Linked DNA regions of Homo sapiens: region 2 is linked to region 1. The links come from fine-mapping of genetic effects on gene expression. A gene starts in region 1. The other region holds a variant in brackets. All regions are shown on one strand. Distances are from middle to middle. Region 1 holds the start of NUBPL (NUBP iron-sulfur cluster assembly factor, mitochondrial). Region 2 overlaps NUBPL (NUBP iron-sulfur cluster assembly factor, mitochondrial).

Region 1 (5,389 bases):
TTAGAGTTAGGTTCTTCCTACATTTAAACAATAGAATCACTGAGCATATTTGCATTAGTCAAATGTCATCATTCTAATCTAAAACATCTCTAGCATGTATATTCAAATGGGAAGTATTTTGAAGTAGTTTGAGGCAGGAATAAATACATATAAGGAAAAGAAATATATTAATAATACCAATAGAGTTACATAAAAATAACCTATTTTTAAGACTTAGATATGCTCACAGAGCTGTTATGAAAAAGTATGGGCCAGCTTTTCGGGACAGATGGTATAATGTTAACAGAAAAAAAGTGAGAAAGGGACATTTACTGAAGCACCCATTACGTGTCACATGTTGTACACTTTCTCATACATTTTCCTGTTTAAATGCTTTCACATTTCATGGCAACAATCATCTTCCAACTAAAAATAATAAACAAACAATCTTAAACAAGTGCCAGCCTACAGACCCAACAAATTACAAAACGCAAAGAACTTATGGCTACAATCATGAAAACACCTTCCATCCTTATCCAGTTCAAGTAATCACAGAGCATGCAAAAGGATTCAAACCACTGAAAACTGAAAAATGTACTCCAAAAGGTTCTAGAACCAAAAACTAAGAGCTTCTAAATTTTAAAAACAACCAGATGGATTGTAAACCTTTAGGAAAGAAAGGAAAAATGTGCAGGAGAGCACATGAATTCATTAAGAACAGATTATTAATTTTTTTTAACAATATGGTATCTATCAAATAGTAATGGATTAGTGATCCACCACAAATACAATATTTGGTAAATCTTAACTTTTCCAAAACATCTGACAAATTCTTCCAGAATTCCCTTCTGATAAAAATGGGGAAAAATGAGCTAGTAGGCAGGGCGCGATGGCTCACACCTGTAATCCCAGCACTTTGGGAGGGCTAGGCGGGCGGATCACGAGATCAGGAGATGGAGACCATCCTGGTTAACACGGTGAAACCCCGTCTCTACTAAAAATACAAAAAAAAAATTAGCCGGGCGTGGTGGTGGGCGCCTGTAGTCCCAGCTACTTGGGAGGCTGAGGCAGGAGAATGGCGTGAACCCCGGGAGGCGGAGCTTACAGTGAGCCGAGATTGCGCCACTGCACTACAGCCTGGGTGACAGAGCGAGATTCCGTCTCAAAAAAAAAAAAAAAAACAAAAAAAAAAAGTTACTAGATGTTTTAAAAATAACAGCAACCAATTATTGAACACTAGTAAACACTAAGCTAAGTGGTTAGCTTGTGCAATTTGAATAACCATCTTATGAAAGAAGTTATCTCCATTTTACAGTTAAGTGAACTGAAGATTTGCTGTACAATCTGACCACTTTTTCCTGAGTTAAGGGGTGGGAGACCCGGCTAGTACCTACTTTTGTCTAACTCCAAAATCTAAGCGTCTACCCGCTACCAACTCCTGAAACTAAGGAATCACATGTTAGGAACTTCACAAATAAATTTTTAAAACACAAAACTATAATTTCAATAGTGTGCACTTGTCTGTTGGCATAAGTTCTTAATCAGGAATAGAATTAATATCCTATAATACCTGCTGTAGTAGATTTTCCGACTCCACCCTTTCCAGAAGCCACAACTATAACTTGTTTAACACCTTCTATCGGTTTCTGCTTTGGAAGTCCTCGGGACATGATTTGTGTTCTTCTTTGTTTTAGGGTCTCACTCCCGGCGCCAGACAACTTTAAAAAATAATAATAATAAAAAGCCGTTTTAAATAAGCCATCTCCATCATCACACTGTAAAAGCAAAAACAATCTGGGGTTTGCAATTAAGAGGGCTTTCTTTTCTAATTCTGCTCATCTTCACTATGGAGACATTTACCTACTACTACTGATAACAATTGTAAAGACACATTGCTTAAATTGAAATTTTTCTAGCAGGATACGCTGAACGTTTAAAAATGTAAAAACGCTGCCTCTTTACGGAGATAAGGCTTCCACGTGTTTTGCTTTTCTTCAATCTATTTGATAAATAACCCAAAGCCAAGAAAGCAATGTAGAATACCACATCTACGTTCTAACTGTGTTTCAAGTCCCGCCACGCCTCAGCCTGGGCCTGCCTGAAAAGTAGGCACGTCCAGCACACTGGGGGTCTCAGGAACTGAGGCGAGTCTTTGGCAAGAAGCAATGCCAGGGCATCTGCGGCCCTGCAGCCCAGCATCTGTCAGCCCGCTTCCCCCTGCCCTGCAGCACCACGGACCTGGCGCCCACAAACCATCGCTCGGCTTCCCCCAAGCGGGGCAGTGGCCCCGCCACCAGCCCGGAGCGACACCCCACCAAAAAGCAGCAGACGCTGCCAAATCCCCATGACGCGGAACGCTGCTGTGAGCCCTGCTGGGAAACTGTCGCGGGTGGCGCGGAGTGATGACGTCACGGAGCAACGCTCGGCTTTCTCTTCCTAGCAACCGGTCTTCTTTGGGTTTGTTGGCTCAGGAACCCAATCTGCATGATCTTGTTTATAGCCAGCTACAAACATTTTGCAGCGTTTTACTAAACGTTTGTGAAGTGTTGTCATATAAAACATCTCTTATGATACTTACAGAAGTCCCGAGGTAGACAGAAGACTTACCTAGTATACTCTTTTTATGGACAAGAAAACGGAGAAAGTTTAAAGAGACTTGACCCAGCTTAACAAAAGTAGGAAATGGGGGACCTTGAAAATGACCCCAGGATTTCTTACTAAGCAGTATATGGTCATTTAAATACTACCACCGTTAAGGATTTTACCTTTTTATTTTATTTTTTCCCGTGTGATCTACAGTGAGAGTCTGTTTTGCGTTGGTATTCATGGCTTGTGTTGCTGACAGTTCCCTGAAAGAAAGGTCAGGTTGCTTTACCAGCAACCTGGTAAAGAACTTTGCAAGTTCTTCCAGACTTAAGACTCATTTATTTAACAAATATTCGTTGAGCAACTACTATGTACCGAGTACTACAGTAGACTTAAAATATTCAGCATTGAGACCGACATAATTCCTCCACTAAAGGGCTTTATAATCCAGTGCAAAAGACAGAATAAGTTAACAACAAAATTGCGGTATAATATGATAAGTACAGGAGAAAAGCATTGAGGGATACAGGAGAAAGGACAAAGTGATACAAAGAAAGGGCACTCAATTCAATCAGGGGAAGCTTCTAAATTAGGTAATATCTAAGCTGAATGCTGAATCTGAATAATGTGTAGAAGTTAGCTGGGAGAATGGCAAGGAGATTGTTGTAAAGAGGTTAGAAATGGACTGCTAAGGCTAGGCATGGTGGCTCACGCGTGTAATTCCAACACTTTGGGAGGCCAAAGCAAGAGGATTGCTTGAGCCAGGAGTTCAAGGATGCAGTGAGCTATGATTGCACCACTGCACTCCAGCGTGGGCAGCAGAGTGACACCTTGTCAGAAGAAGAAGAAAGAAGGAAGGAGGAAGGAGGAAGAGGAAATTAAAAGGAGAAGAAAGAAGAAGGAAGAAGAAAGAAGAAGAGAGTAGAAGGAAGAAAGATGAAAGAAGAGAGAAAAGCCCCCGCCCGGCCAGCTGCCCCGTCCGGGAGGGACGTGGGGGGCAGCCCCCATCCGGTCAGCCGCCCCGTCCCGGAGGGAGGTGGGGGGCAGACCCCGCCCGGCCGCCACCCCGTCCGGGAGGTGGAGTCACCTCTGCCCGGCCACCCCGTCTGGGAAGTGAGGGGCCCCTCTGCCCAGCCGCCACCCTGTCTAGGAGGTGTACCCAACAGCTCATTGAGAACGGGCCATGATGACGATGGCGGTTTTGTCGAATAGAAAAGGGGGAAATGTGGGGAAAGGAAAGAGAGATCAGATTGTTACTGTGTCTGTGTAGAAAGAAGTAGACATAGGAGACTCCATTTTGTTCTGTACTAAGAAAAATTATTCTGCCTTGGGATGCTGTTAATCTATAACCTTACCCCCAACCCCGTGCTCTCTGAAACATGTGCTGTGTCCACTCAGGGTTAAATGGATTAAGGGCGGTGCAAGATGTGCTTTGTTAAACAGATGCTTGAAGGCAGCATGCTCGTTAAGAGTCATCACCACTCCCTAATCTCAAGTACCCAGGGACACAAACACTGCGGAAGGCCGCAGGGTCCTCTGCCTAGGAAAACCAGAGACCCTTGTTCACATGTTTATCTGCTGACCTTCCCTCCACTATTGTCCTATGACCCTGCCAAATCCCCCGCTCCGAGAAATACCCAAGAATGATCAATAAATACTAAAAAATAAAAATAAAAAAATAAAAAAGATATCAAAAATAAAAATAAAAAAAGAAAGAAGAGAGAAAAGAAGAGAGAACACAAGAGGAGTAGAAAATACATTTCTTTTCTGGATTGTTAAGAACTGTAAATGATCTGTGCAACTTAGGACAAAGTGACTAAAAGAGATGAGGATGGAGTGAAGGTTGGTTAGATGGAGGTTGCCTAAATCAAGAAAGGCTGTATATATCTTGTAAAGAAATTTGGACTTTATCCTAAGGGAACTATAGAAGGATTTTAAGCAGGAAAGTAACATCAGATTTGTGTTTTAGAAATACCACTATGATTACTGGGTTAAAAAAGAAATGGATCAGCGGGGCAAGATCAGAGACAAGGAGACATGAGGTCTCTCTCTTGAAGGCTTGACTTAACATCTCTAAATTTCACTTTGTTATCAATAAAATAGTTAATTCCTACTTCTATGGTTGTTGTGAGGTTGAACTTAAGATAATGCATGTAGAACAGCTGTCACAGAGTTAGTAATTGTTAGCTATTGTGGTAATCATTGGTTGTGTAGAGGTTTATGACATGAGCAACTAGATGAATTCCCTGAGAGAAAACATAAGAGGAGGAGCAAGTGAGAATAATGTTTGTAGAATGGCTGAATCATTACTTTGGTTTACCTTTCCCCAAATTAAAATTTTAGGAGAGTAGTAGAGATGTTTCTTCTCCAAAAAACACTGACACACATATACATATCCATGGCCTCTTTTCAAAAGGGTATTCTCCTTTGGTCCTAAGAATTGCTAAGTCATTTGACCCCATTCCCAAGGTCACTAATTGGACTAAAGACTGATGTACAACCAAAAAATTGACCAATCAGATTAATTCTCCAGAGAGCCTGGAAAATAAAAGTAACAGGTGTTAGTCAATCTTAGTTTGTCTTTGAGCTAATACAGTTGAAATTACTATTTTCTACTATGTGCATGCAGAAGCAGATAAAGCCAATGCAAGAGAGAAGAAGAAAGTAGATCATAAGAGATCATGTTACCATAGAGGAAAGGGAGAAGAGCTGCACTGGTTCATAACTTTTCAGTTCCTGGTTCCAGTTCATAATGAGGTTCAACCGGACTTCCTATCCTTAGGTCCATAAGATATACTTACATCCACCCAATAAATTTACTGTC
Region 2 (5,389 bases), 130 kb before region 1:
CTGGCTAGCCATATGCAGAAGATTCAGACTGGATCCCTTCTTTATATGATATGTAAAAATCAACTCAAGATGGATTAAAGACTTAAATGTAAAACCCAGAACTATCAAAACCCTGGAAGATAACCTAGGCAATACCATCCTGGACATAGGAATGGCAAAGATTTCATGACGAAGATGTCAACAGCAATCGCAACAAAAGCAAAAATTGACAGGCGGATCTAATTAAACTTAAAAGCTTCTGCACAGCAAAAGAAACTATCAACAGACTAGACAGACAACCTACAGAATGAGAGAAAATATTCACAAACTATGCATCTGACAAAGGTCTAATATCCAGCATCTGTAAGGAACTTAAACAAATTTACAAGAAAAAAAAACTCCATTAAAAAGTGGGCAAAGGACATGAACACTTATCAAAAGAAGACATATGTGTAGCCAACAAGCATATGAATAAAAGCTCAACATCACTGATCATTAAGGAAATGCAAATCAAAACCACAATGAGACAGTATCTCACACCAGTCAGAATGGCTATTATTAAAATGTCAAAAAATAACTGATGCTGGCAAGGGTGGGGGGAAAAGGGAACACTTATATATACACTGTTGATGGGAGTGTAAATTAGCTCAACCATTGTGGAAAGCAGTATGGTGATTCTTCAAAGAGCTAAACAAAACTACCATTCAACCCAACAATCCCATTACTGGGTATATACCCTAAAGAATATAAATCATTCTACCATAAAGACACATGCACTTGTATGTTCCCTGCAGCACTATTCACAATAGCAAAGGCACGGAATCAACCTAAATGCCTATCAATGGTAGACTGAATAAAGAAAAGATGGTACATATACACCATGGAATACAATGCAGCCACAAAAAAAAAAAATGAGATCAGGTCTCTTGCAGGAACATGGATGGAGCTGTAGGCCACTATCCTTAGCAACCTAATGCCGGAACAGAAAACCAAATACCACGTGTTTTCACTTTTAAGTAGGAGCTAAATGATGAGAACACATGGACACAAAGAGAGGAACAACAGACACTGGGGCCTACTTGAGGGTGGAGGGCGGGAGGAGGGAGAGGAAAAGAAAAATAATTATTGGGTACTAGGCTTAGTACCTGGGTGATGAAATAATCTGTACAACAAACCCCCCTGAAATGAGTTTACCTATATAACAAACCCTTATCTGAACCCCTGAACCTAAAAGTTAAAAAAAAAAAAAAACAACAACAAAAACCTGTTCAGGCAGATAGCCTTTCTCCTCAAAGATTTTCTTTTTTTTTTTTTTTTCTTTTTTTTCTTTGAGATGGAGTCTCACACTGTTGCCCGGGCTGGAGTGCAATGGCGCAATCTCAGCTCACTGCAACCTCCTCGGCCTTCTAGGTTCGAGCGATTCTCCTGCCTCAGCCACCCGAGTAGCTGGGATTACAGGCGCCCACCACCACGCCTGGCTAACTTTTTGTATTTTTAGTAGAGACGGGGTTTTGCTATGTTGGCCAGGCTGGTCTCAAACTCCTGACTTCATGATCTGCCCACTTCGGCCTGCCAAAGTGCTGGGATTACAGGCGTGAACCACCGCGCCTGGCCCAGTGATTTACTTAATGATGTCCACGAACTCATCTGCTGCCTCTTGGCTGGCAGAAACTGCCTCTCCTGTTACATTGATATTTTTTTAAGGGAAACCTCTTCCTAAAATTATCAAACCATACTTTGCTGGCATTAAATTCTCCACCTTTAGATTCTTCAGCTATCTTTTGCTTTAAGTTGTTATATAATGACTTCATTTTTTTCTTGAATAATATTAGAGTCTACAGGCATGCTTTACTATAGCAATCCTGCACTCATATATAAGCTGCATTTTCAATACAAAGTAAAAAGGTATTTGGCAAAATGTGCAAGGTTTTCATGCCTGATAATGTAGCTGCAGCAACAACTTCACAAATTTTCTTATCTTTTCTCACAATGGTCCTTAGGTTGGATTCATTTATCTTGAAATGGCAAGCAACTGCAGCTGCAGACTTCATTCTATGGTACATATCAAGCAATTCAACTTTTTTTTGTAATGTTGTGATTTTCCTCTACTTCTTCAGAGACTTCCAGCATCACTAGTGGCACTTCACATGGTCCCATGGTGTTATTCAAGGTTCAC[G/A]GTATTATGTTAAACACAATGAAAAATACATGAAAACTCTAAGACATAACTTTTTACTGTAATAATTGATTGGAGAAATGAACTGCTCACGCAGAGATCATTAGCACACAGCATTTTAAGTGGATACTCACAACACTTGAGCTCACCACAATAGCAACAGGAGGTAGCTAACAAAATTATCACAGCAGTATAGTATGTAGTACAGTGAATTTTATGCAGTTATAACGTAGTACTACATCTGTACATTTGTTTACATTTCTCTTGACTGCTAATGGCACCATGCACAGTGTGTAAGTTTTGTATGCATAAGTTTTGATAAATTTTAACTTTTATAATAGATTTGTGTATACTTTAGGTAGTACATGATAAAATACACTAGTATCAACATATATTTTAGGCATTCATGACATATGTGATGTTTTATTAATTTTTTGATATTTCTAAGATACATGGTTCATCTGCAAGTTTTTTCAAGTTGTTCCAAATCTGCAAAAAATTTTCCAATGTGGTTAACTGAAAAAAATCCTCATATAAGTGGACTCAAACAGTTCAAACACAGTTATACAGGAAACTCAAAGTCATTTATGCCTGAATATGAGATACACAATGAATTTTTTTTTTGAAACAGGGTCTCACTCTGTTGCCCAGGCTGGAGTGCAGCAGCATGATCACAGCTCACTTCAATCTCAAATTCCTAGGCTCAACCAGTCCTCCCATCTCAGCCTCCCAAATAGCAAGACTACTGGTACATGCAACCATGCCCAGCTGTTTTTTATTTTTTGTAGAGATAGAGTCTTGCGATGTCGCACGTGTTGGTCTCAAACGCCTGGCCTCAAGTGATCTTCCTACCTTGGTCTTCCAAAGCACTGGGATTACAGGTGTGAGCCACAGTGCCCAGCCATACTGAATAATATTTTAGTATGGACAGATCCCAAGTGCTCACTTCAGCAGCACATATACTAAAATTGAAATGATACAGGGAAAATTAGCATGGCCCCTGCACAAGGATGACACATAAATTTGTGAAGCATTCCATGTTGTTATGAAAAGCAATAGCAAATGCTGGCGAGGATATGGAGAAAAGGCAGATCCCAAATTATTCATTGCGTGTCTGATGCTCAAACTTAACTGGGCATCCAACATATTACCTGGCAACCCTGCTCCCAGTGTGTGATACTTTGATCCTTGACATTTTTATTGCTTTGCTAGAGACCTGATTTTCCTCACATAACCTCATTTCCAAATTCTTTTATTTTTTAGAAAAGCCTAAGTTTCTAATATCCCTCCTCTGAACACAACCAACTTATCCATCACTTTTCACACCTTTTCTTCTACCAGCTACTGAATTGCTTCTTCCTCATTCCAGGTGTTTCATATTTGATCTCTCCAATTTTACCCAGTCTCCTGATCCCTCTTGACTACCTGTCTTTCTTGAAACCAGGACTTCAGTGTTCCACTCATTAATTCCCTGGATATTTTTCTCCTTTGGACTTTCTGCCACACCAGTTACTAATCCTAGATCTAACAAAAGGTTTACCCATGTCACCTTGCAGGCTTCAAAGAGTTATTGAAAACAGTCATAAAAACTTGGCAAAAGTAAAAATTTTGATATTCAGCATCCAGTAGGCCTTTGCTGCTACACAGGGGTCTTATCATTCATCTCCTCATCTCTCTTTTTTTTAATTCCTCTGAAAGCAGTTAAAAAGAACTGCCTCTGTACCATTGTATGCCTAAGCCTGATTTTAGACCCACCAGCATTAGAGTCACCTGGAATAATCTAATTAAAATGTGAATTCCTTGGCCATACCTGGGACCTACTGAATAAAAATCTTCAAGTGGGAGAGTGGAATAGAAAGCCTATAAATTTGAATTTTAAATCAGTTCTCCATGTAATTTTCATGAACACTAAAAACTGTGCATCACTGCTCTATTGAATAAATGCACCATCTTTTCCCGTCTACTGGGAAGAATACCTTTTGTTAACTTCTTTTTAGTGTCAGGTAGGATGGGATTACTTTATCTGCCCTTTTTTTCTATTCCAAACACAAATTTGGAAGAACTTCTTTTTCAAAAATAACTTACCTCTCTGACCTTTAATCCTATTCCCTTTTGCCTTTTTCATAATTTTTTAAAACAATCCTCTCATTTTCTATAATTTTCACTGCCTCTTCACTGAATCCTTTCACCTTGTAAAAGGTATGGCTGTCCTCTTTAAGAAAAAAAAAGGCTTTAATTTAATATACCACTCCTCCTTAAGCTACCATCCTATTTTCCTTTCCTTTCCCTCACCCAGCCCCCAAATTCTTGAATGGCCTATTTTAGAATACAATACTCTCTATATAGGTAGAATACACCTCTACCTACATAGTATTGTTATAAATGTATTCTTAAACCCCTATAATCTTTTTTCATTCCCTGTTCTAGTTAAGGTTTACAAATTTCCACCGAACATCTATTATTCCCTTGCCCTATCTCAATCCTTGTTCTCCCTGACCTATCATTCTTAAAACTCTCCACACCAGTGATTCCCAAACTTGTCCACAGACTGGAATCAGGTGGACAGTTCCAAAAGTGATAATGCCTGGGTCACATGCCCAGGATTTGTAATTTAATTGGTCTGAGGTGTGAGCTGAAATTTGAAAATTGTTTAAAATCCCTAGATGATTCTAATATACAGATATGTTGGAAAACCATTGCTCCAAACCTTTAATCTTCATGACATTAGTATCCTTAGTTTTTTCCTACCTTTTGAACTACTTCTTTTCCTGTTTACTAACTCCTTTTCCTCCCACTAAATCACACACCTCCAAATATGAATGTTAACCAAAGAGAAGTCCTCAATTCATTACTTTCCCTTACTATAATCAACATTAATTCAAGCCATGACAGAAGAGGTGTCTCAGGGATAATGCTGGTAACAATGTTGATACCCATTATAACATCAACAAATCTAATACACCACTAATTATAAGATGCATCATTATTTTGTGTAGCACTAAACGAAAAAAACACCTAAGATAAATTGGGGTCTAATAGGAGAATCCTACATAAAGCTAGGATCCCAAAGGACTACATCATCTTAAACCAAAGATAAATAATATATAAATCCACAATTTAGAAAGAAATCTCTCAACTTGGGCCATGGCAGAGGGGAGAAAACACCTCCTTAACAACATGAACCACCAGTTGGTATACATGCAGCTTTCCGATCTGTATTCATACCACCAGAGTGGT

Evidence for each region. PIP is the estimated chance that this variant, and not a neighbour inherited with it, causes the effect.
Region 2: its variant is fine-mapped to the expression of NUBPL in fibroblasts (GTEx, PIP above 0.99). The same link has a PIP of 0.9 or more in breast.

The regions. Positions count from the first base shown.
Region 1 is chr14:31,558,376-31,563,764 of GRCh38, reverse strand. NUBPL (NUBP iron-sulfur cluster assembly factor, mitochondrial) reads right to left here and starts at 2,361. Exons shown (of 11, transcript NM_025152.3): 1 at 2,218-2,361; 2 at 1,550-1,697. The coding sequence starts at 2,325. It overlaps NUBPL-DT (NUBPL divergent transcript), which reads left to right and starts at 2,434. Exons shown (of 3, transcript XR_943720.2): 1 at 2,434-2,654. RefSeq lists enhancers at 1,637-2,192, 2,119-2,518.
Region 2 is chr14:31,684,500-31,689,888 of GRCh38, reverse strand. All of the region lies in intron 6 of NUBPL (NUBP iron-sulfur cluster assembly factor, mitochondrial), which reads right to left. It also overlaps the pseudogene RNU6-455P. Among named protein-coding and RNA genes, the nearest start is that of NUBPL, 130 kb to the right of the region's middle. The variant G/A (reference allele first, on the strand shown) is at 2,156.